Homo sapiens: one gene and its partners. The protein of the gene in region 1 interacts with the protein of each later gene in a pairwise test. Each region holds a gene or a part of one and is shown in the gene's direction. Other genes may lie near its edges. The genes, in order: SLC35H1, CREB3L1, MAL2, C14orf180, TSPAN33, STX3 and SLC30A3.

The links.
Region 2: the proteins of SLC35H1 (region 1) and CREB3L1 interact in binary tests that used the Homo sapiens proteins (3 or more experiments, as listed by UniProt).
Region 3: the proteins of SLC35H1 (region 1) and MAL2 interact in binary tests that used the Homo sapiens proteins (3 or more experiments, as listed by UniProt).
Region 4: the proteins of SLC35H1 (region 1) and C14orf180 interact in binary tests that used the Homo sapiens proteins (3 or more experiments, as listed by UniProt).
Region 5: the proteins of SLC35H1 (region 1) and TSPAN33 interact in binary tests that used the Homo sapiens proteins (3 or more experiments, as listed by UniProt).
Region 6: the proteins of SLC35H1 (region 1) and STX3 interact in binary tests that used the Homo sapiens proteins (3 or more experiments, as listed by UniProt).
Region 7: the proteins of SLC35H1 (region 1) and SLC30A3 interact in binary tests that used the Homo sapiens proteins (3 or more experiments, as listed by UniProt).

Annotation. Positions count from the first base shown.
Region 1 is NC_000020.11:46,357,401-46,361,425, reverse strand, and holds part of SLC35H1 (solute carrier family 35 member C2), read left to right. Parts: intron 1-2,467; exon of another isoform or gene 2,468-2,662; 5' UTR 2,663-2,700; coding exon of another isoform or gene 2,701-2,735; 5' UTR 2,736-2,867; coding exon of another isoform or gene 2,868-2,919; coding exon 2,920-3,039; intron 3,040-3,652; coding exon 3,653-3,803; intron 3,804-4,025.
Region 2 is NC_000011.10:46,308,352-46,312,376, forward strand, and holds part of CREB3L1 (cyclic AMP-responsive element-binding protein 3-like protein 1), read left to right. Parts: intron 1-1,637; coding exon 1,638-1,716; intron 1,717-2,680; coding exon 2,681-2,838; intron 2,839-3,973; coding exon 3,974-4,025.
Region 3 is NC_000008.11:119,238,965-119,242,894, forward strand, and holds part of MAL2 (protein MAL2), read left to right. Parts: intron 1-1,200; coding exon 1,201-1,356; intron 1,357-3,930. UniProt on the Homo sapiens protein: Member of the machinery of polarized transport. Required for the indirect transcytotic route at the step of the egress of the transcytosing cargo from perinuclear endosomes in order for it to travel to the apical surface via a raft-dependent pathway.
Region 4 is NC_000014.9:104,585,904-104,589,928, forward strand, and holds part of C14orf180 (nutritionally-regulated adipose and cardiac enriched protein homolog), read left to right. Parts: intron 1-511; 5' UTR 512-527; coding exon 528-638; intron 639-1,845; coding exon 1,846-1,975; intron 1,976-2,370; coding exon 2,371-2,406; intron 2,407-2,674; coding exon 2,675-2,880; coding exon of another isoform or gene 2,881-2,975; 3' UTR 2,976-4,025.
Region 5 is NC_000007.14:129,164,998-129,169,022, forward strand, and holds part of TSPAN33 (tetraspanin-33), read left to right. Parts: intron 1-1,780; coding exon 1,781-1,909; intron 1,910-2,401; coding exon 2,402-2,563; intron 2,564-2,775; coding exon 2,776-2,877; 3' UTR 2,878-4,025. UniProt on the Homo sapiens protein: Part of TspanC8 subgroup, composed of 6 members that interact with the transmembrane metalloprotease ADAM10.
Region 6 is NC_000011.10:59,789,703-59,793,727, forward strand, and holds part of STX3 (syntaxin-3), read left to right. Parts: intron 1-816; coding exon 817-884; intron 885-2,404; coding exon 2,405-2,513; intron 2,514-3,396; coding exon 3,397-3,470; intron 3,471-3,677; coding exon 3,678-3,812; intron 3,813-4,025. UniProt on the Homo sapiens protein: Potentially involved in docking of synaptic vesicles at presynaptic active zones. Apical receptor involved in membrane fusion of apical vesicles.
Region 7 is NC_000002.12:27,256,163-27,260,119, reverse strand, and holds part of SLC30A3 (probable proton-coupled zinc antiporter SLC30A3), read left to right. Parts: intron 1-1,185; coding exon 1,186-1,367; intron 1,368-1,789; coding exon of another isoform or gene 1,790-1,812; coding exon 1,813-1,959; intron 1,960-2,061; coding exon 2,062-2,215; intron 2,216-2,767; coding exon 2,768-2,966; intron 2,967-3,226; coding exon 3,227-3,332; intron 3,333-3,599; coding exon 3,600-3,734; intron 3,735-3,957. UniProt on the Homo sapiens protein: Probable proton-coupled zinc ion antiporter mediating the import of zinc from cytoplasm into synaptic vesicles and participating to cellular zinc ion homeostasis in the brain.

The DNA of each region.
Region 1 (4,025 bases):
GAGACTCCTGCAGTCATTTGGGGAGAGGATGGTGGCTGAGATGGTAGTGGTGGAGTTCAGGACATGTGCTCATATTTGGGATATTTCTGAAGATAGAGCTGACGGTATTTATTGATTGAATGTGGGCTAAGGGGAAGAGAGGAATCAGATGAGCCTAAGGCTTTTGGCCTGAGCAACTAGGAGAGTAGTGGAGCCATTTGCTGGGATGGGAAGTAGGAAGAGGAGCAGGCTTGGATGAAATGGGGGTGTGGAAAACACGAGTCAGTTTCAGACACTCTAGATGTGAGTGAGATGCCTGATATTAGATATCTAAGGGAAGAAGAGGTTAGGTAGGCATTGGATATTCTTCTGGAGTTCACATGAATCAGAGCCGGGGCATATATTGGGAAGACATCAGCTTACAGAAGGCATTTGAAGGAATGAGAATGCATTAGGTCAGGTAGGAGTCTCAACTCATTGGATCTGACACCTCTTTTTTATTACAAATATTTTGTAACAGTCCCTTTTATTACCCTAAAATGAAACATATGATTAATAAAAACTGCCTACACATAATTTTTTAAAAATCAACAAATGCAGCCGGGCGCGGTGGCTCACGCCTGTAATCCCAGCACTTTGGGAGGCAAGGCGGGCGGATCACCTGAGGTTGGGAGTTCAAGACCAGCCTGACCAACATGGAGAAACCCCATCTCTACTAAAAATATAAAAAATTAGCCGGGTGTGGTGGTGCATGCCTGTAATCAGTCCCAGCTACTAGGGAGCCTGAGGCAGGAGAATCGCTTGAACCTGGGAGGCGGAGCTTGTGGTGAGCCGAGATTATACCATTGCACTCCAGCCTGGGCAACAGGAGCGAAACTTCGTCTCAAAAAAAAAATAAAATAAAATATAAATAACCATGCCCTATAACATAAAAGGAAAGTAATTGATAGTAAAACAAAATATGTTTCAATATGTAAGTTTCTGGGCACAATAGTGCTGGAAGTTGCAGTGAAGCTGTCCCTTCTGTGTGGACCCTCTAGGAGTGTGATGGCCACAGACACAGACTGACACAGCCGTGTTGTGTCGCACCTCGAAAACCACTAGTGCCATTGCTGTAGATGATGTGGTTTTTCCAGAATGGACACTTTTGGTGCCATTTTGAGACCAATTTTGACCATTTTCAGTCTCCCTTCATTGTACATAGGCGTCTTATTCTTGGAAGTGTTAGTTCACAGCAGAACCATGGAAACACTGCACTGTGTTTACATGTAAACAGAGTTACATTCTAGGTTCAGATAATTATAAGCTAATCTTTCACCTATATGGATGTCAAAGTCGTGCGGGATGCAGAGCAGTAATTGGCTATGTGGACTGCCCCTTCTTTATCCCTGCTTACTGAACGCCAGGAGCATATCCCCAAAATACCGCCACAGGTTTCCAAAGCTCCTCTGAAGACAACTGTAGCCCCAGAGATTCATTTGGACACAGCCAGCTCCCTGTTTGCCCCGGGGAGGGGAAATAGTAACAAGAGTTCCAGAGTGCAGAATGGAATGTAACTGCTCCCTTCAGAAATGTTGGGGTGGGAGATGGAGAATGTGTCTGATCGTGAAGCCTAGGAAGGCTTCGAGAAGAAGGTGGCGTTTCAATAGGATGGGAATGTCTCAAAGGAGGATCTGTGGTTGAGGGGGGCACCCAGATGAAGCAGCAGGTATCATCACATAACACTGGACCTGAGGCTCCTCCAGGCACAGACAGGTCTACCCGGCATGCTCCGGGCACTCATCAGGGTTGGCTGGATTGACAGGGAGGCTGGGAGTGGTTTCATTTGGCAATACCGTAAGGCAGGCTCTGCTTCCAGGGAGTAGTGGTTACAGCCTGGTCTTACAGTGTTCCAGCCGTTAGAGTGTTGGTTTCCTTCTCCATTTTTAACCCCTAAAGACCAGACCAGTCCCCTGAAAATCGCATGCCTGCTCTCTGTCAGTCATCAAACCAGACGGAGAACTTAAAGTACACCAGCTGTGCGTAAGGCCAGTGTGGTCTTACTGGTCCCTATCTTTGTGCCGCTCGTAGCCTCTCAGGGGACAGACATTACTCAAATCACACCCTGCACAAGTGCTATGAAAGAGAAGTAGGAGAGCCGTGAAAGCAACATGTATCTCAGGGGACTGATTCAGGGGATGGGGTGGGGTTCCCTGAAGAAGTGACCTCTGAGCTGAAGATAGGTAGGATTGATGAAGGACTGAAGGGTGGGTGCAGTGTTCGTTCATTTCCTTCAGACAACGGGAAGAAAGCTGGTGTGTTTGGGGAGCTGAAAGGCGCCCAGTGGGGCCAGGTCCTGGAGAGCCTGTGGCTGAGACTGGGAAGACCAGCAGGGCCAGATGAGGCCATGGGAGCCGAAAGAAGGGTGCTGGTCTTTATCAGAAAAGCACTGGAAGCTGCTGAAGGGTTTTAAGCAGTGGCCTGACATGATCAGTTTGTGTTTTAAAAGGTCACTTTGGTGGCAGTTCATGGAGAATAGCTTGAGGTGACAAGACAGCAGACACGACGTGGGTCTCTGGGACTGCCTGTGCCGTTGTGGGCAGCCCCTCCAGAGCCCTGAGTCACGCAGCCTTCAGAGGCACCCATGGCTACGAGAAGCACAGTCTCTGCCTGAGGCTCCAGAGCGGCCCTTTTTCCCCAGCAGCAGACCTTGGGACCTGTGAGCGCTGCATCCAATTAACCATGGGAAGGGTCAGCACCAGCCACCAGCCCCTTAGGTGAGGACTCTGCCTGGGGCTCTGCTGATGGTTCCGAATCATGGAGCTGCAGAGAGCTCCTCCAGCCTGGAGACGTTCTTGGTGAAAGCTGTGGTCTAACTCCACCGGCTCTTCCTGCACATTGTATTCAAGAGGGGTGCCTGCCCCCGCTGACTCAGGAGCTCCGGTGCTGCAGCCGCCACGAATGGGGAGGTGGGCCCTCGATGTGGCCTTTTTGTGGAAGGCGGTGTTGACCCTGGGGCTGGTGCTTCTCTACTACTGCTTCTCCATCGGCATCACCTTCTACAACAAGTGGCTGACAAAGGTACCAGGAGGCCTTGCTGGGGCGGGGTGCTGGGATGAAGGTGGCCAGAGCCATGGCTACGGTGCCCTTCATGTTTAACAGGAAGGCACAAGCTTCAACCAGTCTAACTGGAAGCCAGTCACGGCTGGGCTGGAACAGGGCCCTCCAAGCCTGCCGTGCCAGGGTTCCCCTTCAGTGTTTGGATCCAGGGAAACCAAGGAGAGCGGGGGGTGTGAAGGGATGAGCTGGGGAAACTGGGGCTCAAGCAGCAGCTATTTACCCCACTAGAGAAGTATTTCAATATTTTAATAAGTGATACAACGTAGTGGGCCGCAGTGGCTCTCACTTGGGCATAGGCCGTGAGGAAGGCTGGGCAGGTAGCTCACAGGTGTGTTGAAATGGTGGAGACAGCACCAGGCTAGGATTGAGTCTCTTGGCTGCCACCTGTCTTCGTGACCTAAGAGTCTGTCATTCCAAGCGATGATACCGTAACTAAGGGCCCTACACACATAGCAAGGTCCTCATGAACCACCGAATGAGCCCCACTCCAGCAGAGGGGCGAAGAGGAAGAGGGAGCCGGTGGGGGGCAGGCTGTCTAAACCAAGCCGGGGTGTCTGCTTTGGGCTCCATACAGAGCTTCCATTTCCCCCTCTTCATGACGATGCTGCACCTGGCCGTGATCTTCCTCTTCTCCGCCCTGTCCAGGGCGCTGGTTCAGTGCTCCAGCCACAGGGCCCGTGTGGTGCTGAGCTGGGCCGACTACCTCAGAAGAGTGGCTCCCACAGGTAGGTGGGGGACCTCAGTGAGGGCAGAGCAGGAAGAGGGGCTGGGGAACCATAGGATGAGAACAAGAGAGACACCCGCATGTCTGGAAGCCAAGTCCCTCCCCTCTTCCTGCACTGTTCCTCCTCTGCCCTCTTGACCTGGCCTCCCACCACCCACGCTGCTGCCTCTTGTGCACTGCGTGCCTTCCCACTGCCCCACCACACACCCACAAAACCCCCCCT
Region 2 (4,025 bases), on another chromosome or scaffold:
TTTTTAAAAAAGAAAAAAGACCAAAAAGGAAATTACAAAAAAAAGTGTGCTATATTCCAATTGTTTACATTTATGAGATTAATATTTTTAACCCACACTCTCAGGCTGAACTCCCTCCTCCACCAATGTGTAGATGACAGCATTCAGCTATAAACCCAAGACCCCTCTGGGAATGTGAACCCCAGACCCCTGGCTCCTAGCCGAGGTCCTGCCTGAGTCCCAACTCGGTGCCTCCTTTGTGTTCTGGGCATGTTGCACATCCTCCTTCTCTGTAAAAGGGGCTCATGAACCCCCTAAGGTGCTTCTAGCCCTGGGATTCCACAGGATGAGCAGCATCTTAAAATCCCTAGATGGGAGCGTGGCTGGCCCTGCCCCCTGCTGGCCACACGGCTCACTTGCTCTAACTGTACGTGGCTGAAGGCAAGAAAGGTCAGCCCCTCCCTGCCCCACCACAGACCCGTGGGATCAAGGGTCGGCGGCAAATATGCAGGATCTTTTGAGACCATCTCCAAGACTGGCTCTGAGACTCCTCAGGCCTTGCCAAAGCAGGAAGGGATGGAGTGACAGCAGCAGCAGCCAGGGAAGAGGAGACTTCAGAAAGGGAAACTGAGGCTCAAGGGGTTAAGTAATTTGCCCAAAATCATGCAGTTAGAAGCAACTGACATGCCTTCCAAATTCGGCCTGCCAGACCCTGAAGCCCACGCGAGTGAGGTCATAACCCCTAGTGGAAGGCACAGGAGCTGGCATTGTCAACAGTGAGCTCTCTGCACCGCAGTCCCCTCTCTGTCACTTGAGGGCTGAGCTGGGATGTAGACCAAGGAATCTCCAAGGTCCCTGCCAACTTGAACCTTCTGGGATTCTTACTCATCAGCCTACATTCTGGATTCTGCGTCCCACCCACAATATCATGATCTCTCTGGGGCTGCAGCCCAGGGCCTGCAATCCAGCCCCCAACAACGCCTTCCTCAGACAGAGCACCACTTACTTGCATGTTGGTAGTCATGTGTACAAAGCCATGCATGCTCTTGAAGTCCTTTCTGGAACAACAAGTCAGAATAGAAATAAAGAGAAATGCATGTTTGTTAAAAATGTCCATCTGATTCTATCAAGCCCTTACTTCAACCCATTAGGAGCTCTCATTGCCTCCAACTTCTTTGTCTAGATTCTACTTCTATTTATACCCCGGGACTCATTTCAGACTTTGACTTCTCAGGGAGCATCCTCGGAGCCCCCAGCCAATTAATGCCTCCTTCTGTACTACTGCTACCAGCCATTGAACAGCTACACTGTTCCAGACATTACCTCTTGTTTTATTCTCATGGCAACCCACATACCAAAGCCTGTGTGGCCTTCACAGTTGGTGTGGAAGGTGGCCCCACACTCAGAGGCTCACCTTCTCTGAGCTTAAGGTCTGAGCTACACTGCTTGGCCAGCAATCCTTTCTCTTAGGTGTGACTTGGCTTCTTTAAGCTCAAGAGCTTGCCTCTGTTCCCTTGCAGCTGTGCCCAGAACTCCAAGCCCAGCCACTTCCCCAACTGTGCAGGGCAGGCAACCAGCTTTAGGGAGGAGGTGGGTAGATGGCATGGTGGGGACAGACCCAGGGGCAGCTAATGGAGCTGGGCTTGTCTGTTCCTCAGGCCCCGGGAGAGATGACTCAGCTGCCAGTGATCAAAGCAGAGCCTCTGGAGGTGAACCAGTTCCTCAAAGTGACACCGGGTAGGTGTGTCCAGGGGAAGGGCTCTTTTCCCCTCCAGTCATAGGCAGATAGCATCCCCACTTCCTTGGTTCAGCCCATCCCTATCTCTTGACAACCTTCCCCCACCCAGAATATCCTCTCCACCCTGCCCTACCCACTGTCCCTCCATCCATGCCCACTCTTCGTCTAGTCCTCTTCGTTTTTGTTTTTTGTTTGTTTGTTTGTTTGTTTGTTTTTTGAGATGGAGTCTCACTCTGTCACCCAGGCTGGAGTACCATGGCACGATCTCAGCTCACTGCAACCTCCCCATCCCAGGTTCAAGCAATTCTCCTGTCTCAGCCTCCTAAGTACCTGGGATTACAGGTGCCCACCACCACGCCTGGCTAATTTTTGTATTTTTTAGTAGAGACGGGGTTTGGCCATATTGGTCAGGCTGGTCTTGAACTCCTGACTCAGGGGATCCACCTGTCTCAGCCTCCCAAAGTGCTGTGATTACAGGGGTGAGCCACTGCACCCAGCCTTCGTCCAGTCCTCTTCTTGCCCAATCTACTGCTGCCATCGCTCCTGCTTGCCCAGCCTGACCCTATGAGAGAGAGGCCCCAGTCACCTTCTGGGGTTGCTGAGCTAGAGCTTAGTGATCTTCTGGAGTTGCTGAGCTTAAGGCCCTGAACCCTGTGAAGTCAGAGGTCACAGAGGACCTCCCACGAATTCAGCTCCTATGATGTCTATGCCAAGGGCGAGCTTGTAAAGGAGCTGGGCCTCTGTGGTGTCAGATGAGGCAGCACCCAGGAATTGGCTACCCAGATGTCAACTGTCTTTCTGACCCTGCAGAGGGGCTTCTGATGTCATAGCTGAGACCAAGCGCCTGGCAGTCCGTGTCCCACAATGTCAGGGCTGGTGCAAGCTCATGCTCAGCTGAACTCATGATGTCCAAGTGGAGCTGATGTGCAACGTTGCTAACTCGGTTTCCCCTGCTCTCCCCAGAGGACCTGGTGCAGATGCCTCCGACGCCCCCCAGCAGCCATGGCAGTGACAGCGACGGCTCCCAGAGTCCCCGCTCTCTGCCCCCCTCCAGCCCTGTCAGGCCCATGGCGCGCTCCTCCACGGCCATCTCCACCTCCCCACTCCTCACTGCCCCTCACGTAAGGAGCTGGGGGTGGGCTGATCCCAGAAATGAGGAATTGAATACATCCACCTGAGCACACTGGCCAGTCAGGAGGGTTTGGGGAGCCCCGAGACTGATCCCCACCCTCATCAGAATTCAGAGGGATGCTTACCTGGCAGATGGGAGTTCTAATCCTTTTATTTTTGAGTCTTGCTCTGTTGCCCAGGCTGGAGTGCAGTGGCTCAATCTCGGCTCACTGAAACATCTGCCTCCCAGGTTCAAGCAATTCTCCTGTCTCAGCCTCCCAAGTAGCTGGAATTACAGGCACTTGCCACCGTGTCTGGCTTTTTTTTGTTTGTTTTTTTTTTTTGAGATGGAGTCTCGCTCTGTCGCCTGGAGTGCAGTGGCACGATCTCGGCTCACTGCAACCTCCACCTCCAGGGTTCAAGTGATTCTCCTGCCTCAGCCTCCCGAGTAGCTGGTATTACAGGTGCACACCACCACCCAGCTAATTTATGTACTTTTAGTAGAGACAGCATTTCACCATGTTGGCCAAGCTGGTCTCAATCTCTTGACCTCTTGATCTGCCCACTTCAGCCTCCCAAAGGGCTGGGATTACAGGCGTGAGCCACCGCATCTGGTCAGGAATTCAAATCCTTTCGCCCTGCCTCATGGTGAACAGGAGACTATTGCAGAGCCAGGACTAGAACTTGACATTCCTGACCTCCAGGGGATGACCCAGGCTGCCTCCAAGGAGCGCTGTGTGAGGGGAAGTGCCCAGATGGTCCAGAATCCCCAGGAAACATGGAGCTAGGCCCTGAGCCCTGGGATGGGTGTGGAGTCTCCCAAGCCAAGATTGTAGGGAGGGGTCTGAGGGAGATGCTGTTTGGGGCACCCTGGACAAGTAAGCTTTGAGGGTGCAGTCTCAGGGATGGGATCCAGGAAGCCCTCCCGAACAATGCACTAAGAGCCTAACACCTGAGCTCTCAGCATGGCCCTGGCACCTGACACATGTTACTGAATTTCACCCAGATCCACTCCCTTTCCAGATGAGGAAACTGAGGCATAGAGCATTGTGTGCCTTGCCCAGGTCATATAGATAGCACATGGCAGAGCTTGAATTTGAACCCAGGGCTGCCTGGCTCCTAACTACCACATCATACTTCCTACAGAAATTACAGGGGACATCAGGGCCACTGCTCCTGACAGAGGAGGAGAAGCGGA
Region 3 (3,930 bases), on another chromosome or scaffold:
AAACTATCATCAGAGTGAACAGGCAACCTACAAAATGGGAGAAAATTTTCACAACCTACTCATCTGACAAAGGTCTAATATCCAGAATCTACAATGAACTCAAACAAATTTACAAGAAAAAAAAACAACCCCATCAAAAAGTGGGTGAAGGATATGAACAGACACTTCTCAAAAGAAGACATTTATGCAGCCAAAAAACACATGAAAAAATGCTCACCATCACTGACCATCAGAGAAATGCAAATCAAAACCACAATGAGATATCATCTCATACCAGTTAGAATGGCAATCATTAAAAAGTCAGGAAACAACAGGTGCTGGAGAGGATGTGGAGAAATAGGAACACCTTTACACTGTTGGTGGGACTGTAAACTAGTTCAACCATTGTGGAAGTCAGTGTGGCGATTCCTCAGGGATCTAGAACTAGAAATACCATTTGACCCAGCCATCCCATTACTGGGTCCCAAAGGACTACAGATCATGCTGCTATAAAGACACATGCACATGTATGTTTATTGCGGCATTATTCACAGTAGCAAAGACTTGGAACCAACCCAAATGTCCAACAATGATAGACTGGATTAAGAAAATGTGGCACATATACACCATGGAATACTATGCAGCCATAAAAAATGATGAGTTCATGGCCTTTGTAGGGACATGGATGAAATTGGAAATCATCATTCTCAGTAAACTATCGCAAGAACAAAAAACCAAACACCACATATTCTCACTCATAGGTGGGAATTGAACAATGAGAACACATGGACACAGGAAGGGGAACATCACACTCTGGGGACTGTTGTGGGGAGGGATAGCATTAGGAGATATACCTAATGCTAAATGATGAGTTAATGAGTGCAGCACACTAGCATGGCACATGTATACATATGTAACTAACCTGCACATTGTGCACATGTACCCTAAAACTTAAAGTATAATAATAAAAAAATAAAATTACATATTATAAAATTCAGTATATGGAAAGGTTTACCAATGTGCCAATTAAGATGGGTCAGTTGATTTTCGCTTGGGTTCTGATAGTCTAACATTTCTAAAGCAGCTAAGCTTAACAGTGAATATAGTTAAGATTGTTTAATTAAATGTTTTGATCTTGCTAAACCTAAACTTCATTATTTAAAATAAGGAACAGAAAAATATTTTTTTTTAATTGCAGATGTCTTTTCTCTCCTCTTTTAGGATTTTGCCTACCATTTTACAGTATTTGTCTTCTATTTTGGAGCCTTTTTATTGGAAGCAGCAGCCACATCCCTGCATGATTTGCATTGCAATACAACCATAACCGGGCAGCCACTCCTGAGTGATAACCAGTATAACATAAACGTAGCAGCCTCAGTAAGTATTCATATTCAATGAGTACCATTCACCAGCACTTCCGCTCCACTGTCAAGGCCTCCAAGAAACTCCTCAGGCAACAATAGTTTTCTTCAATGCTAGCCATTGGCATTAAATATGTAATAGCTATTTATCTGTACAATAACCTTGTAAGCAAAGTGCCATGATCACCCCCAGTGTTGTGGATGATTAAACTGTAGCACGAAGAGGTTGATGTTCATGTAAGATCATAGCAAGCCAGTAGGACTGCTTGGCTTTGCACAGCAGTGTCTACTTTGCAAAAAGAGTTGTGTTTTTTGCTTCTGATAACTTTCAGAGATGGTAAAGGAGATTTCCAGTTTTGTTCTTTAGTATTCAATAGCTGCTTGCAATTTATTTCTATTGAATGAATAGTTACTGTGGGCCTACCATTTATCAAGTAATTTTGCTGGGTGTTGAGGATGGGGTGAATAAGTTGCAGTTCCTGCCATTAAGGAAAGTGCAGGTGAGAAAGGGAGGCAAATATGCCAGCCATTGCAGTAGATGATAGGCAGATGAAATATATTCCTTGGGGTATTTATTAAATTTTTTAAATCATCTTTAATTCGTATACTGGAGTGAATTTGTCATTTTGTGTAGATAATTTGAGGAAATAATATATTATTTTTGTTGTTAGAGATCATTGTTAAGATGTCAGAAGTCCAAATTAGTTTCTGAAATATTGTGATATTTAATATAAGTATATGGCAAGTTAGTGACCCTAATGTTTTATTATGTTCCCCAGGTAGCCTATAAATAACCCAGTACTCATATAGTCATTGAAATCTGTCTGGAGCAGCACTGTCTAGTAGAACTTTCTATAATGACAGGAATATTTCATGTAAGTGCTGTCCAAAATGGTGGCCACTGGCTTCATGTGGCTATTGAGCAGTTGAAAATTAACTAGGCCAAGGAATCATAGCTCATGCCTGTAATCCCAGCACATTGGTAGGCCGAGGTGGGAGGACTGCTTGAGGCCAAGAGTTTGAGACCAGCCTGGTCAACATAGCAAAACCTTGTCTCTGAAAAAGGAAAAAAAACAGAATAAAGAATTGGCCAGGCCTGGTGGCTTGTGCCTGTAGTGCTACCTACTCAGGAGGCGGAGGTTGCAGTGAGCAGAGCAGTCTGAGCGACAGACCAAGACTCTGGTCGGGGGAGAGAAAGATAACTAGTATGACTAAGGAACTTGAATTTTTAGTGTTATTTAATTTTAATAATCACATGTGCCTAGTGGCTATCATGTTAGATAATACATGTCTAGAGTGAGTTTTGAGGGGTACAAGACAAATGATTTCAAGACCTATTGTAAGTTTCCCAAGTCTCTGGTAGGATTTGTCAAAATTTATTGAGTGCCTGCAATGAATTAGGCTGAAGGTGGGATTACAACAAAAAGGAGTCATGGTTTTAGCTTTGAAAGGTTTATAGTGTAGATTCATGACTTTAACACTTGCTTATAAAAGAAATAAAGGTTTTATTTAATCAATTCTTACCTAAAACCCCAATAAATCTAGAAGATAAAAGTGTAAGTGCTCTAGTTGAAGTGGAGGAAGAGGGCCTTGAATGATGCTCATTCTCTTTTCATAAAGCTGCCTCTACCCACCCATATCATCCCTGAGGATGATAGAATCCTTGTGATCCACATTAGAAAACCCTTGGTTTTAACAGCTTTACAAAGCAAAGTTCAGGGACTTTCCTATGCTATTAGTCATCAATTCCCATTGTATTTGCCTTTATGTGTTTCTTACTTCCAGTCCCTTCATTTTAACGGTGCAGGCTAGATTCTTGTATCTTGGATCATTGAAGTAGCCCCAAATCTATTGACAGTCACCCTAGAACCTACTTTCACAAGAATAGTAGCTGCTGAAATACGTGATGGTTGTCTGAGGTCTTTAATTTGTCACCTTTGTCCTAAGGGCCTAGTTTTCCGTGTTCTCCATAATGTAGTTCTGTTCTGGCTGCTTCTCTTTTGTGACTTTGTCCCTGTTGTCCTTCCCTTTCTAAGTGAAGCTGTCTCAGTAAACCTCTACATGCTTCAAGTTCAACATTACATCCCATTTCATCCATATGCTCACTCCAGTCTAAGTAAATCTCTAGTTTGAGTTTTATTGTAACTAAAATGTATTAGCCATCCATTTGGGAAATTAGAGAGGAAAATTCCTTTTCCCTAATAATAGGTATCAAATAATAGGTATCAAAAAATAGGTATCAAAAGCTATTGCTGTCATTCAGAAAACAATGTCTAGATTAGAAATGTATCAGAGAAAAAATCAGCAGAAGAAGGGTGGAAAGAAAAGCAGAATAGTAAACTGTGAAAATGGTCTATAGGTGAATCTGGTATTCCTTCCCAGAACTGGTTTCCTGGTTAAGAATCCCTGTGCTAAACCCACAACATTTATCAAACATTTATCATGTTGAACTGCTTTTGCTTTGTCTTTTAGTCTTCTATGGATCATAAGCCCCAAAAGGGTGAGGACATTATCTACTGTTTGTTTATATGTACCAAGTATAGTGATATACACACAGTTGGTGCTGAAGAAATTCTCATTAATTCCAAGT
Region 4 (4,025 bases), on another chromosome or scaffold:
CAGCCCAAAAAGGTGGGCATGACCCTCTGGGAAGCCTTTCTGTGGACCCGGTCTCAGAGCCCTGACAATTCCCAGTCCCCAGCCCCAGGGCTTCCCGCTACCGAAAGGAGACAAAGCAAAGATGTTTCTTGCAGCCTTATCCATGACCTCCAAACATTGCAAATGACAATACTAAAATGCAACCCTCATGAATACCCAATCATCGAGGGTGACTTTCAGTGACGGGACCTCGGCCCAGTGGAATATTATGCAGCCATTAAAGATGATAATTATGAAGACCGTGGCAGCAAAGGAAATTGCTTGCGATGGCATTTCTGAACGAGCAGGGAACAGGATTTACCTGCACTGGGGACACCACAGAGGAAAAGTGGTGTCTGCTCAACAGCGTGGCCGGTCGCAAGCCCGGGAAGCCAGCCTGGCTTCCAGGAAAGAATTTTCTCCTCCTCTTATTTTCATTCCTCTGAGTGCCACTTGTGCAGTAAATAATAAATAACGTCTCTGCTTATCTTAGGACCATGTTCCAGTAAATGAGGACTGCAGCAGGAGCCGTGAGCCCTGACTCCCGGCCAGAGACACGACGTCAGACCAGAAAGAATGAGGAGGCCGCGTGGGGCCCGCGGGTGTGCAGGGCAGAGAGGGTAAGGCGGGCCGCTGGGACACAGCTTCTGCAAGCTGGCCTTCCACTGGGGGCTGGAGGGGGCAGGGAGCAACAGACGTGGAAAGGCCATCCTCCACCCCAGGAATCAGGGGGTGATAGGAGGAGGGCAGGGGGATCACTGAGGGCTGGGGGGAGCAGCGGGGGGCAATGGGTGCCTTGAAGGATTTGGTCTGGCAGAGGAGATTGGAGGCCCCCAGGTGGGGCACAGCTTGGCAGAGGAAGTGGGAGCCATGGAGGGCTGTGGAAGAGGCAGCTCAGGGAGGAGGGTGTTGGAGGAGGGAAGAGGGTGGAGAGAGGACAGGTCAAGACTGTCACCAAGGGTCAGTGTTAGGGTTAGGGGCCCAGACCTCAGACCCTGAGGCTCCATCCAGCCTCTGAGGCACTGCCAGGCTGGGGCATGCCACAGGCACAGCAGGAGCTGGGCCAGACTCAGCATGGGCAGGCCTCACGCCCTCGCGGGGCAGCCTCGCCAGATGCCGAGCAGCAGGCTGTGTACAGCGAGCAATGCCCCAGCCAGGAACAACCTCAGAGCTGGCCCGGCTCCCAGGGTGCCTCAGCCCCAGTTGTCACCATGTCACAGACAAGGATGCTGAGGTTCACAGCAGCCCGAAACTCCCACTCCATCTTCCAGACTCAGGCTGGGCCCATACACGTGAGCAGACCAGCAGAGAAAGGGCCCAGGTAGGCAAATGTGTAGGAGCTGCCCCCGCCTGCAGCCTGGGAGGCTCGGCCCCAGGGAAAAGGAGGCCGAGGCCACCAACCAGCCCTCCTCACGGCCCTGGCCCGGCCCCTGCCCCATAGAGCTTGCAAACTCTGGCCCCTTAGCCAGAGCCCCTCTGCCATTGCAGCCCCCTCCCCCTGTCCACATGTCCTGGGGACCCTGTCCAGCAGCCTGCATCCGAGACAGCGGGCAGACGAAGAGAGGTTCAGTGGGGACTTGCGTGAAGAGACGGGGTCAGGAGGGGCTCCTGTCTTGCCTGGGCCCCTGAGGCTGAGTCTGGCTGCCCTGCAGTCCCTGTCCAGGAGCTGCCCCTCACCCTACAGGAAGTGACAGGCCCAGCATAGCGCACCAGCCAGGACAGGGTACAGGTTCCAGGACGGTGCTGCTGGGCCCCACATGGCTCAGACCTGGGTACCAGCGGCCTCCCGCCGGGGACTCACCAGTCTGCTTCCCGCCCCCACACCAGGAGGACAACAGGAAGTGCCCCCCCTCCATCCTGAAACGGAGCCGGCCGGAGCACCACCGCCCAGAGGCCAAGCCCCAGAGGACCTCGAGGCGCGTGTGGTTCCGAGAACCCCCAGCGGTGACCGTCCACTGTAAGAGGGCACCCGCAGCAAGCAGCTGGGAGAGGGTGGAGTCAAGCAGAGGGAGGCGGGGACACCGGCCACACCCACACAGCTCTGGCAGGGCCCAGGACATGGGGGGGCCGTGGCCACCTGCCTTCAGTGCCACAACCCCTGTAAGACCTGGGCCCCTGGGGTCATCTGGACACACAGTCCCGGTCCATGAAACAGCAACTGGAGGAGAACATGAGGGCGGATTCTCAAATCATGACTGTCCCTTTGAGGAAGTGTCAGGACCGGCTGGGCCTGGGTCTCTCACTGATGAATAGTCTCAGGGTCCTTCGGGGGTGCAGGGTGAGACGAGAGGGCGGGGGCGCCCGATGGACTGAGGCAGGTGCCCCCAGCTGACTCTCCATTCTCTTTCGCAGACATTGCTGACAAGAACGCCACAGCCACTGTCAGGGGTGAGTTCTGAGCCCACATCCCTGTGCCCCACTGCCCCCTCCGTGGGTGCACCCACCCTCACTCCCTCCCCGAGGGAGGTGTCACAGGGCCAGGGCCTCTAAGGAGTCCCCAGTTGGGGAGCTCTTGTTGCAAGGAGACCCCAAGAGGCTAGGGAGGGGCCATGGGCATGGACAGGGTGGAATCTCCCCATCCCTTCCCCACCAGCCCCAGTCCTCCAGGGAAGGGTCGCGCTGGCTGGCGCTGACCCTGCCTGCCCTCTGGCCGCAGTGCCCGGCCGGCCCAGGCCACACGGCGGCTCCCTGCTCCTGCAGCTGTGTGTGTGCGTCCTGCTCGTGCTGGCCCTGGGCCTATACTGCGGCCGGGCCAAGCCCGTGGCAACGGCACTGGAGGACCTGCGGGCCCGGCTCCTCGGCCTTGTCCTGCACCTGCGGCACGTGGCCCTCACCTGCTGGCGCGGCCTCCTGCGGCTCTGACGGGCAGGACGGGCAGGACGGGCAGGGCTTCCAGGAGAGCTCAAGCACTCCGGGGGCTCCGAGACAGCCTGAGCCCTGGCCCTGCTGCTTGGTGAATCATGGGGGCCAAAAGGGGCTGCTGCCTGAGGGCTAACTAGGAAAAGGGGGACCCCGTGGCGTGAGATCGGACATGGGGGGCACAGCAGGCGGCCCCGCCACACTAGTCAGCACAGCCCTCCTGTCTCCTGTGTTGGGTCCATGTGAGATTTTATTAGAAAGAGGATTCGACTGCTAACAGTTGAGGCTCCCCAGGCTCACCCAAAGACCCCTCCCTCGTCCCAGCAGGAACTCCTGCTGCTGCTAGGGCCTGGCCCGGCCATCACCGTGTGCACCCTCTTGAGGAGGGGGACACACTGCCCGTGTTCAAGGGGCTGCTCGGAGGAGGCAAACCCAGCCTTTTGCGATTATGGCTTGTGGGGAATCCAGACCTCGAAACCCCACGGGGAGGGAAGGGTCTGGTTGTCAAGGTGGGTCCCTTTGATGTGAGGTGCCATCCTCTGAGCCCAGGTCTGACCCCCCTACCCAGCCCCGTGAGTCTGGAGAGGCCCCAGGGAAGGACCCCTCATCAGGGGCGGCTTCAGGTGTAGAAGCCGAGGGGACAGCAAGGGGCCCAGACACCCCCGACCTTCAGAACAGCCATCTGTGCCCAGCTCTGCAGGCCAGGCACACCCAGCTGAGCCCGGGGCCAGCCAGCACCACCCACCAGCTGGGGCCTGTGGGTCCCGGAGACCGTCTGTGGTTGTGGCTTTGTCGCCGGATTGCAGAGCTGAAGGGAGCCCTGTGGATGACAAACACCAGGGGCCTCTCCAGACCCTACGTGGGGGGAGGGCTGAACAAAGCAGGGAGGCCCACGGTTAGACACCAGGCAGAACTGCCCAGGAGAGACACAGGGACAATCAGACCAGCGTCCTCGAGGTTAGCCTGAGGCGGGTGGGCACGGCCGACCATCCACCCGGTGGTTCCTGTTTGTCCCACCACTTAACTGGGAGACACTGTTTTATTAAAACACACCGTGGCTTCCTTCAGTCTTGGTGTTTTTATAGAAATGAGAGAAACCAGAACCGATTTGCTAAGGAATCGGCCTCAGTGGCCAAAGCGGATGTCCT
Region 5 (4,025 bases), on another chromosome or scaffold:
TTACATAATGTAAAATTTACCATTTTTAAGCATACAGATCCGTGGCATGAAGTACCTTCAATTGTTGTGCAACCATCACCACCATCTCCAGAACGCTCATCTGCCCCAGATGAAACTCTGTATCCATCAAACACTAACTCCCCATTTCCTCTCTTGAATCTCTGTATCCATCAAACACTAACTCCCCATTTTCCTCTCTTGAAACTCTGTATCCATCAAACACTAACTCCCCATTTTCCTCTCTTGAAACTTTGTATCCATTAAACACTAACTCCCCATTTTCCTCTCCTGAAATTCTGTATCCATTGAACACTAAAGCCCCATTTTCCTCTCCTCCAGCAACCACCATTCTACTTTCTGTCTGTAAATTTGACAACTCTAGGTACCTCAAATGAAGGGACTCACGGTATTAATGCTTTTTTGAGTGGGTTATTTCACTTAGCATGTCTTCAAGTTTCATCTCTGTTTTGGCATGTGCCACAACTGCCTTCCTTTTGAAGGCTGAATAATATTCTGTTGTATGTATATGCCACATTTTGTTTATCCATTCATTCACCAGTGGAGAAAAGGGTTGCTTCCACCGTTCGGCTACTGTGAACAAGGCTGCTATGAATCAAAAGTTAACAATTAGGCCAGGCATGGTAGCTTACATCTGTAATCCCAGCACTTTGGGAGGCCAAGGCAGGCAGATCATTTGAGGTCAGGAGTTTGAGACTAGCCTGGCCAACATGATGAAACCCTGTTTCCACCAAAAATACAAAAATTAGCCGGGTTTGGTGGCGCACACCTGTAGTCCCAGCTACTCAGGAGGCTGAGGTGCGAGAATAGCTTGAATTTGGGAGTTGGAGGTTGCAGTGAGCCAAGATCATGCCATTGCACTCCAGCCTGGGTGACAGACAGAGACTCCGTCTCAAAAATAAATAAGTGAAAAATAAAAGTTAACTTTTTTTTTTCCCTGAGACGGAGTCTTGCTCTGTTACCCAGGCTGGAGTACAATGGCGTGATCTTGGCCCACTGCAACATCCGCCTCCTGGGTTCAAGTGAATCTGCCTGCCTCAGCCTCCTGAGTAGCTGGGATTACAGGTGCCTGCCAAACCACGCCCAGCTAATTCTTGTATTTTTAGTAAAGATGGGGTTTTGCAATATTGGCCAGGCTGGTCTTGAACTCCTGACCTCAGGTGATCTGCCCTCCTCGGCCTCCCAAAGTGCTGGGATTACCGGTGTGAGCCACAGCACCTGGCCAAAAAAGTTAACTTTTAAGTAAAAGTGCTTCTGAGACAAGTCCTGAGTTCCCCTTCCTCTGGTGCAATAGACACTTGACTTTGAGATCCAGTTGGCTCTCATGGAGTAATGATTGACTCACAATATTGAAGATTCCTCCCCTGTGTTTTCTCTATCTTAAGGAGAAGTTTTTCAGCACTGATACTGTAATTATTTCAGCCAATACTTTTGATCACTTCCATTTGCCTGCAAAGCCAGAAACTTCTCTCAAGAAGATTATAGCTGAGTATGTAAAACAAAATATATGTACAACTGTAATACCAACAAGCACAGTGGTAAGTTATAACAAGATATACGAAGTAATAGAAATTAAGAAGTGAGAATATCTTCAGGCGAAGGCAACTGGGAAGCTGGAGCTCAAAGTTTAAGGCTGTGTTAAAACACAACCTAAAGTTCCCAGTAGAAGCTTGCTATAGACTTTTGGTGGCTCTGAGAATTCCCCTGGTCACCTCAGTGTGAGGGGTGGGTGATTCTTAACCTCTGGTGGGTTTTGTTGCAGTTTAGCTGCTGTGGAGGGATTTCCTACAAGGACTGGTCTCAGAACATGTATTTCAACTGCTCAGAAGACAACCCCAGTCGAGAGCGCTGCTCTGTGCCTTACTCCTGTTGCTTGCCTACTCCTGACCAGGTGAGCCAGCATCCTGCCTCATTTCCTCCTAGGCAGCGAGCTGAGTCACTTTCTGATGGGGGCAGCTGCTACTGGGGATCCCCATCCCCTAGCTTCACCGATCAGTCATGTGGGACAGCTGTCAGGTGTTTTTCTTCACCCCAACCTGATGCTTCTATTAACCTCATACTCATGTAGTCCACATGGAGTTCAGAAGGGACAGATTTAAGTTTTAAGTTCAGATTCAGTACCTGTGCAGGTTTGTTATATAAGTAAACTTGTGTCTTAGGGGTTTGTTGTACAGATTATTCCACCACCCAGAGCAAAGAGACCTGGATCCTGACCTCTCAGAGGAAGGGAAGTCTGCATTTGGCAACTTCCAACCCAATATCCTCCACATATATTCTCTGACAATTTAGGAGTTTGGGAAGGGTGGGAAGCCCATCAGCTAAGGCCCCAAACAAAAAGTTATTGGAATTACAGTCCCAATTGGCTTTTCAACTCTTTCCCCAGGCAGTGATCAACACTATGTGTGGCCAAGGTATGCAGGCCTTTGACTACTTGGAAGCTAGCAAAGTCATCTACACCAATGGCTGTATTGACAAGTTGGTCAACTGGATACACAGCAACCTATTCTTACTTGGTGGTGTGGCTCTAGGCCTGGCCATCCCCCAGGTAACTTACCCTGTGAGACTTGTTGGTCCCACACACTCTGTAAAGACTCCTTTGTTTTGGGGAAGGCACCTGGGGATCAGCGAGGGTGTCAGGCACTGACATGGCTGAGGGGTAGGGAAAGGGATAGTGCTGGCCGCACTGGGAAGATCGAGCCAGGGAAAACAAGGCCATCACTCACTGCTGAGTGCCCAATTCCTTCTTGCCTCTCCCAGCTGGTGGGAATTCTGCTGTCCCAGATCCTAGTGAATCAGATCAAAGATCAGATCAAGCTACAGCTCTACAACCAGCAGCACCGGGCTGACCCATGGTACTGAGAATCCATCCTGCACCTCCTCACCATGGAAACTGGCAAGCCTCATAAACGAACAGCAGTGGGTGCTGAAAGCAGCACCAAATGGAGATTTGGATTCCAGCCCCCCAGTGACAGCCCAGTGGGAAGAAGCAAACTCCAGATGGGCAGAAGGCAGGGTGCACAGGTGGCTCCAGTCTCAGGAGGATGCGCCTCCTCTCCCCCATCCCAGCCCTCAGCATTGTGCCAGAGTGATACCCTTAAGTGTTTGGGTTTATGTTTTCAGTTTTGTTTGGGAAACAGCAGTTGCACAGAGAGTTGGGGGTACTGCTGCTGCCTTTTCACCGAGGCACTGCCACCACCAGCTCTAGCAGGGATGCTCCTGAGCTTGGCGGACATACTTAGATCCTAACGTGCCAGTGAGACCTGGCTGTGGAGAGTAGCACTGGCAGCCCTGCCTGGACTCCACTTGGCATGATACCAGCTCCAGAAGGGAAGGGAGTGGAGCAGGCAGTGAGGAGAGAGCCTGGGGGTCGGCTGGGGACAGCCGTATGTGCTAGGTAGGAGTGGAGGGAGATATGTTTACCAAATGCCTGTCCTGCCATCCTCCCAGGTAGTCAGAGTGAGCTACATCCTGCCCCGCCTTCATTTCCATGGAAACATGGCAGCTAGGACACGGGGTACAACAGCAGCCAAATTCTTCCCCACCTCCCTTACTTCGAAAAAAAGTTTGGAACCCTGGTCCCTATACTCTGCAGTCAGAAGTGGGACTGAGCCATACATGCCCTTGAATTCCTCCCTGTCTGGCCCTCCCTCTCCAGCAAGCAGGGTTTTCTTTAACTTGGCAGTGTGCAGAGGAGAAGTGGTAACACCCCCACCCCATTCCCCTGCATCGGAGCTCAGTATTCCTACAGGGTAAGAGGTAGGAATCTTGCTGGGACGAGGGGAGCCAGAAGTGGCAATAAAAGCGTGTTGACCTGGGCTACGCGGGACTCCATGAATTTTCCATTCTGGCAACTGGAAGGGGAGGTGTAGAAGGGCCCTGCAGAGGACGGCACTGGAGACTCTCCTAAACGCCACACACCTCCCCCTTGCTGCCCGCCACACGCGCGTCTCCTTCAACCGATGCATTGCCACCCTCCCACAGCCTCGCCCTCTGCTCTAAATTAGGTC
Region 6 (4,025 bases), on another chromosome or scaffold:
AAATCGCTGGGATTCCAAGTTTGAGCCACAATGCCCGGCCACCTACATACATTTGAATAGTCATTTTAGAGATATATAAATGCAAGAGATATCATTCAGTCTACAGATATTTCTTGGTGGGCTAGGCATACCACCTTCCCATACCCTCACTCCCCCCATTTGGGAGAGTATAGTTCAATGAAGCTACTGTCATAGATTCAGTTCTTCCAGAGCCTAGAAGGTTTACTTAGTTCTGTTGCTAGAGCCTGCATTCTTGCCCAGTGTATTTGGTGCATGCATGCTATTGATCAGAAGAGAAAGCATTATTGCTCAGCTCAATTTACCATTTCTTCCCCCCAAGTATATTGCAATAACTATTTTAACTGGAGGAGTCATTAGTAGCAGATTCCAGTAATAACAGTGATAGTGCACCTGCCATTGTGCTAGGCACTTTATGTGTCTTCTCATTTAATCTTCACATTAGTATTGTGAGGGAGGGACTGTTATTCTGTTTTACAGATGAGAGAACAGGTACATTAAGAGGGGTTAAGTGGCTTTTTCAAAGTCACACCCAGTAAGTGCCAGGGCAAGGATTCAAGCCTAAGTCTCATGGTGACCAGAACCCATGCTGTTAACTGTTATGCCAAAACCTGGTCATCGTAAAGGCTGTGGAATGCACGTCCTGTGGCTCATCTGGGAGCTGACCTTTTGAGGTGACACCTACCTGTTACATCTCCGTGGGCTGGATGTGTGGGAATGAGTGAGGAAGTTTCACTGAATAGCATGTTTCTTGGAGGCGGAGATAGGTTGCAAGTATAACCTTCCTCTCCTCTTTAGGCATGGAGAAGCATATTGAAGAAGATGAGGTCAGGTCATCGGCAGACCTTCGGATTCGGAAATCCCAGGTAAGACTTTTCCTGGTCTCATGATTAGCTAGTCCAATCTCTTATTGTTTTCCCTTAACTGTGGAGGGATTTTTTTTTTTTAATACAATCCTTATTTTGAAACTCAATTTGAAGACCTGGTAAAGGAGAACTCTCCAGGTTGAAATAGGGGTCAGGGCCAGAGTCCAGCCCTTTTGGCTCCTCTCCTGTACTCTCCTTCTCTAAGGAGGCCCCTGAAGAGCTTTTCAGGCTTCCTAGAGCACAGCTTAGGATTTAGCGTGCCTTCTTGTTTTACAGGAGAGGAAATTAATGTCTTCTAACAATTGTTAGTCATTGGTTGTCCAGTTTGGAGCTAGGCACTTTAGGGGTCATCAAAGATAGGATCCTTGTCCTTAAAGAACTGGCATGCCATTGAAGCGGCATGGAAAGCTATTACCTAAGACCCAGCAGGAGGATGCGACCCAGCAGGAGGATGCGATAAGAAGACACATGCATGGTGCTCTCAGCATCAAAAGATCTCAGGAAGAATGGGGGGTAGCCAGAGGAGGCTGGGCCAGAGTGCCAACATGAGCAGCCTCAGGAAGTAGTTTCCCCTCTCTGAGAGGCACAGGGGCAGGAGTGAGGCACGCACATATGTGTGTGTTGGCAGCAGTGGTTGGTAGTGGTGGTGGGTAGACGTAAGGGGCAGACGTGAAGACAATAGGCTTTCTGTAGAAAAAAGTTTGCTGTGGGATAGTGGACACATAATTTTTAGTAGATAATGTAGTGCCACATTCTAGAGGTCTTTGAGGACCAGTCTGGGGAATTTGGATCTGATGTTATAACTTACAGGCATTTGCTTCAGGCGGCAGTATATTAGGAGGATTATTATGGTAGCCATTTGAAAGCCGTTTACAAGTGGGAAAGAAGCAGGAAACTGGAAGGTCCCTAGTTAGGTTTTTGCAAGGGTTTTGGTCTAAATTTGTATGGTGGTAGTGGGTTTGGAAAAAGTATATATATTGGCGATTTTCCAAAGGAGAAACCAGTAAGTAGGGCTTGATGCTGAGAGGTGAGCAAGGAATAAAAATTATTAGGAAGGTTTTAGCTTAGGCATGCAGGGCTGTTGAGATAATGCATCTACTTATAAGCAAGAAGAGTTGGGGAGATGAGTTTAGCGTAAGAACTCAAGGATCTTTGGTAAGTATGACATGTGGGAAGGGAATCTGACAGTTTTAGAATGCAAGCCAAGTGTTGTGCCAGAAAAATGCTACTAGTCCATGTGGATGTAGGGCTCAGAGATTTAGAGATGACCTCTGGCCTCGCAATTACCACGTGAGGTCAGCAGTAAACCGGTTTCAGTAAACTGGTGCTGAAACCATGCTCTGGAAAGGGCAGTGGACTCTCCCAGTGGCACAAAGCTAGGAAACAAAAAACTTGGTTTGACACCTGGTTTTTTGATTCCAAGTCCAGTGCTATTGTAGATGGCTATGTGGGGGTGGGGAGGGGTTCTATAACAGTTACAGAACCACTGGGGCCTGACTGCATTTTACATCATCCCACAGCACTCTGTCCTTTCTCGGAAGTTTGTGGAGGTGATGACCAAATACAATGAAGCTCAAGTGGACTTCCGAGAACGCAGCAAAGGGCGAATCCAGCGGCAGCTCGAAATTAGTATGTACTTGAGGTTTGGCGTGTGCCCTCCACCTTTCCTGCCACCTGGTTGTCCATCCCAAGTTTTGAGGCCCTGGTGGAGCAAGCAGGAAGCACATTTTGTGCCTAAGTCTAGGGCAGCTCCTGCACCACTGGCACATCCCGAATGCTGTGCTGTAGGCTGAAAGGTGACACCGTGTTTATCAGGCCCAAGTAATTTTATTGTATGGGGTCCAGCATTGTCTCCTATATAGAGGGGAAATGCTTGCCAAACAGTTGCTCTCTTGTGGACTCATTGTATCATTTTGCTGTCTGTTTGACAGCAAAGCACATTTAAGAAATAAAAAGTGTGGTGTAAGTTGCTGGGAGGATAAAAGTATGGTGTAAGTTGCTGGGAGGATTAGAGAAATAAATAAAGCCATACCCTTTAGGAATGTAGTAATGTGGAAGGCAGGGCCCCGTGGAGTGGAAGGTGCTTTGGATGAGAGGAATGGTATGAACATAATCAAGAAAGAGCAAGTGTGTTTAGGAGTGGCAGGTTGTCTAGGGTCTGGAGAAAGGGTGTGTCTGGAGTAGCATAAGGTTAGGATGGATTGAGGGAGGGCTTGCCCATGAACTAGCATGTTATGAGGGCCTTGGACACCATAGTGTAGTGAATGGGGCAAGGAAATGTTCTGAGCTGGGAAGCAATGTAATGAGATAAGTGCTTTAGGAAGGTAACTGCTGATAGTGTTAAGGATGGCTTGGATTAGGGCAGAAATAAGATGAGTCAGGAGGCAATTGGGGGAGTGTTGTAAAGGCCACGGTCTTTATAGGGAAGTCACGTTCCTAATTTTCAGGGTCCTTATCAGATGGTGTTTCACCGTGATCTTATATTTGACGCTCTACTTCTTTTGTTACAAAGCTGGCAAAAAGACAACCGATGAGGAGCTGGAGGAGATGTTGGAGAGTGGCAACCCGGCCATCTTCACTTCTGGGGTGAGTGCCCTGTGTGCTCGGATAGCACATCCCTCTCGTGAGCAGGGAGGCCACTGCGGAGCTCATGCAGTCCAGCAGGTGGAGGGGGAGCTGCAGGTGCAGGGAGTTCAGGGAGGCAAGGAGCTCCCCAGGAGCGTGCATGAGGGCTGTGGCAGGGGCAGCCTTTCTTGCAGGGGTAGCTAACAGTCTGTGTGTGGCCTGTTGTAGATCATTGACTCACAGATTTCCAAGCAAGCCCTCAGTGAGATTGAGGGACGACACAAGGACATTGTGAGGCTGGAGAGCAGCATCAAGGAGCTTCACGACATGTTTATGGACATCGCCATGCTGGTGGAGAATCAGGTAAGTGGCAGTGAGTCCCAGCGTGGGGAGGGAGGAGAGGAAAGCTCAGGGTCTACTGAGAACAGGGAGAAAGGGAATACTGGAAGCCAGTGAGGTAGGGTGGGAGAACCATTGGGAATTTGCATAAAGGAGAAACAGAATCCCATGGGAAAGTGTGCATTCAAATTGAATGTTGACACTTTGGGTGATCTTAACCTTGTCATTCTTGCCTGT
Region 7 (3,957 bases), on another chromosome or scaffold:
GCCTGGAAAGGAGGCACACCAAGGCCAGGAACACATGCTGAGTCCCACTCCACACTTCACTCCACCTTCCCTTCATACTGCCTTGGCGTGCCTGGCATAGCATTCACCTGTCTTTATCAAAATCCTTCCCATCCTTCAAGGCCCTTCTCATGTTACCTCTTACAGCTGTTTCCCTGATTTCCTCGTTATAATTAGTCTGGCCCTCCATCCTCAGAACCCTGATAGCACTCTAACTGCCCTAATGACAGTGGCCACCTTCGCTCTATATCATTGTGTAGGTACATGCTTGCCCTGTTCACCAAAAGCTCTCAGAGATCAGTAGGAATCCTGCTCATTTTGGGGTGCCTAGCATAAGAAATTGGTTGGGGTCTAGTCTCAGCTCTAGCAACTAACTGGGTTGGCCTCCATGTGTCCCCCAACTCTGTGAGCCTCATGCCTCTAATTTATTTAATAAAATGTTAGATGAGAGCCGGGTGCGGTGGCTCACACCTATAATCCCAGCAACTCAGTAGGCTGAGGTAGGAGGATCGCTTGAGGCCAGGAACTCAAGTGTGCAGTGAGCTCTGATCACACCACTGCACTCCAGCCTGGGCAACAGAGCAAGACCCCATCTCTTTTTTTTTTTTTTGAGACAGTCTCTCACTCTGTTGCCAGGCTGGAGTGCAGTGGCACGATCTCGGCTCACTGCAACCTCCAACTCCCTGGTTCAAGTGATTATCCTGCCTCAGCCTCCCAAGTAGCTGGGATTACAGGCACGTGCCACCACACCCAGCTAATTTTTGCATTTTTAGTAGAGATGGGGTTTCACCATGTTGGCCAGGATGGTCTCGATCTCCTGACCTTGTGATCTGCCTGCCTTGGCCTCCCAAAGTGCTGGGATTACAGGTGTGAGCCACCACTCCCGGCCAACCCCATCTCTTAAAAAAGTTAGACTAGACCGTCTGTAAGGTGCTTTCCAGCTGTGAAATTCTATGGCTCTGTGTATGGAAGGAAAAGGGAGGCTGGGCTCTGACCTGTTCATTTAGCCCCGGTCTCTCATGTGGCCCTCTGCCGATGCAGCTCCCAGATACGACCAGGCCTGGGGAAGGAGATGGTCTGATGAGGCCAGCACTGGGGACTAAGGACGTGGAGTGAGCAGGCCAGCCTGTGGGCCAGGCCCAGGTTGAACCATGTTGCTTGCCTCAGTCTCTTCACAGAGCCCTCAGAGCCCCTCCCTGAGGAGTCCAAACCTGTGGAGATGCCCTTCCACCACTGCCACAGGGACCCCCTTCCGCCGCCGGGCCTTACCCCTGAGAGGCTGCATGCACGGAGGCAGCTATATGCTGCCTGTGCCGTTTGCTTTGTCTTCATGGCTGGGGAGGTGGTCGGTAAGTTGGGGAGCAGCCCTTAAACCCCATTCTCCAAATACCTGCCCAAGCCACTCTCCACCCAGAGTCCCAGGAATGTTCCTGGGTGCAGATGCAGAGATGGGGATGGCTGGGATAGGGGAGCTGGGTGCCCAGGACTCAGGAAGTAGGAGGGATAAGGGACAGCAACAAAGGGAATTCCAGCCGAGGTCCGGGGCCAGTAGGTCAGGGCTGACTTCTTTTAAAAACCCTATTTTCTTGTTATTAAAATAAATCATTGTAGAAAATAAAATACAGATGAATGAAAAAAATAACATAACAGTAGTTAATTATACCTGTAGTCCCATCACCTGAGAAAACCCCAAATCACATTTTTGGTGTATATCCCCCAATTTATTTTCCATGCCTATACACACTACATGATATTTTCTAAATGGAAGCAGACTCCATCATTTCACCCTGGCAGGCGGGTATCTGGCACACAGCCTGGCCATCATGACCGATGCAGCCCACTTGCTGGCGGATGTGGGCAGCATGATGGGCAGCCTCTTCTCCCTCTGGCTCTCCACCCGTCCAGCCACCCGCACCATGACCTTTGGCTGGCACCGTTCAGGTAAGGCCCCTGCATGGCCCAGTGACTCTCCAATCTTGCCAGAGGGCACCCGTCAGGGTCCCAAGCAGGTCTCTGACAGCTTGTCTCCCCCCCCACCCGCAGAGACTCTGGGGGCTTTGGCCTCTGTGGTCTCCCTCTGGATGGTCACTGGCATCCTCCTGTACCTGGCCTTCGTCCGCCTGCTGCACAGCGACTACCACATCGAGGGGGGTGCCATGCTGCTGACCGCCAGCATCGCAGTCTGTGCCAACCTGTTGTACGTCCCAGTATGGAGCAGGCACCTTGTGGGGCCCAGGGCGAGGGGTCTTCCTCCAGGATGGGAGAGCTGGCTCTCTCCTCCCCACCAGACACACAGACACGCACACACAGCTCTCCATGGGCTGCCCTGCGTGTGCCTGAGAAGGGTCTGGGATAGAGACCTAAAATTCAGTCAGCAGATCTCTGTCAAGGGCCTGCCATGGGCCAGCCACTCTGATGAGGGCTTTCATCAACATGATTGCATTTAAACCTCACAGCCACCCCATGAGGTAGGTAGCATTACCCCTAGTTTACCATTAATGCAGTCAATCCCAACAGGTGACTTGCCCAAGTCACATATCTATTTAAGTAACAGGGCCAGCTTCCGAATCCACATGTGTGGCACCAAGTCTGGTATTCTTTCCCCCAGGCTGCATTGTTTATCTCTCTTGCAAAATGCTGTTTTCTTCCAGGGGCTGGGAAAGGGCTACTGGGGAGGTGAGACATGGAGATGGGGGTATAGGAGGCCAGGAGCAGGGCCCTAGGCTGAGGTGCTCTGCTTACCCCTCAGAATGGCCTTTGTGCTGCACCAGGCTGGGCCCCCCCACAGCCACGGGTCTAGGGGAGCAGAGTATGCACCGCTGGAGGAGGGGCCTGAAGAGCCCCTGCCCCTGGGGAACACCAGCGTCCGGGCGGCATTTGTGCACGTGCTGGGGGACCTCCTGCAGAGCTTTGGGGTACTGGCTGCCTCCATCCTCATCTACTTCAAGGTACCATCATTGGAGACCTGCCCCAGCCTTCCTCCCCACAACCACATCCCAGCCCACTCCTTCCCAGGTCCCAAAGCTTCCTTCCTCCTCCCTCCAGCTCCTCCCTCCCACCTCCCAGGACTCTCCCAGACATGAGTCATGTTCCCTGTCCCCTCTTCAGGGTTTTGAGGGGCCTCTCAGGTCATGTTTGTTCAAGATACCCCTAGATCTTCCTCTGAAAGGTCCCTGGTTGTTGGGCTTAGGGGTCTCTTTCTCTGCAGCCTCAATACAAGGCAGCCGACCCCATCAGCACCTTCCTCTTCTCCATCTGTGCCCTTGGATCCACCGCTCCCACCCTCCGAGACGTTCTTCGAATCCTCATGGAAGGTGAGTCGGGCACCACAGCTCCCCATCCCTGTGGCCCTCTCTGACTTTACTCTCGCAGTGGGCCATCACTTTTTTCTTTGAAGATAGTACGGGAAGAAGGCTTGGCTCATGGGGTCTGCTGCTGGAACAAGGATTTGGGCATAGGGTGAATTGTAGGGGTCAAAAGGAGAGTGCATACAGGATAGGGGAGGTGGAATCCAGTGGTGGGGGTGCTGCTTCTGGGCAGGAGTAGCCCTAGCAGTAAGGCATGACTGGTGCTGGTTGCAGGTACCCCCCGCAATGTGGGGTTCGAACCTGTGCGGGATACGCTGTTGTCGGTGCCAGGAGTCCGGGCAACCCATGAGCTGCACCTGTGGGCCCTTACGCTCACTTACCATGTTGCCTCTGCACACCTGGCCATCGGTGAGTCACACTGGCCCCAGCTAGTTACTACCTGGAACATACCCCACCCCAAACATGGGACCATAGCTTGAGTTACTGGAATTGTTTCAGTCTTTTTTGATCTGTCTCTGTTTCTCTGTGTCTCTCTCTCTCACATAGACACATACACACACACACACATGCACGTGCGCTCGTGCATGTTGGAGACAAGGAGTCTCCATCCACTGGATGCAGTGTTCTGGGG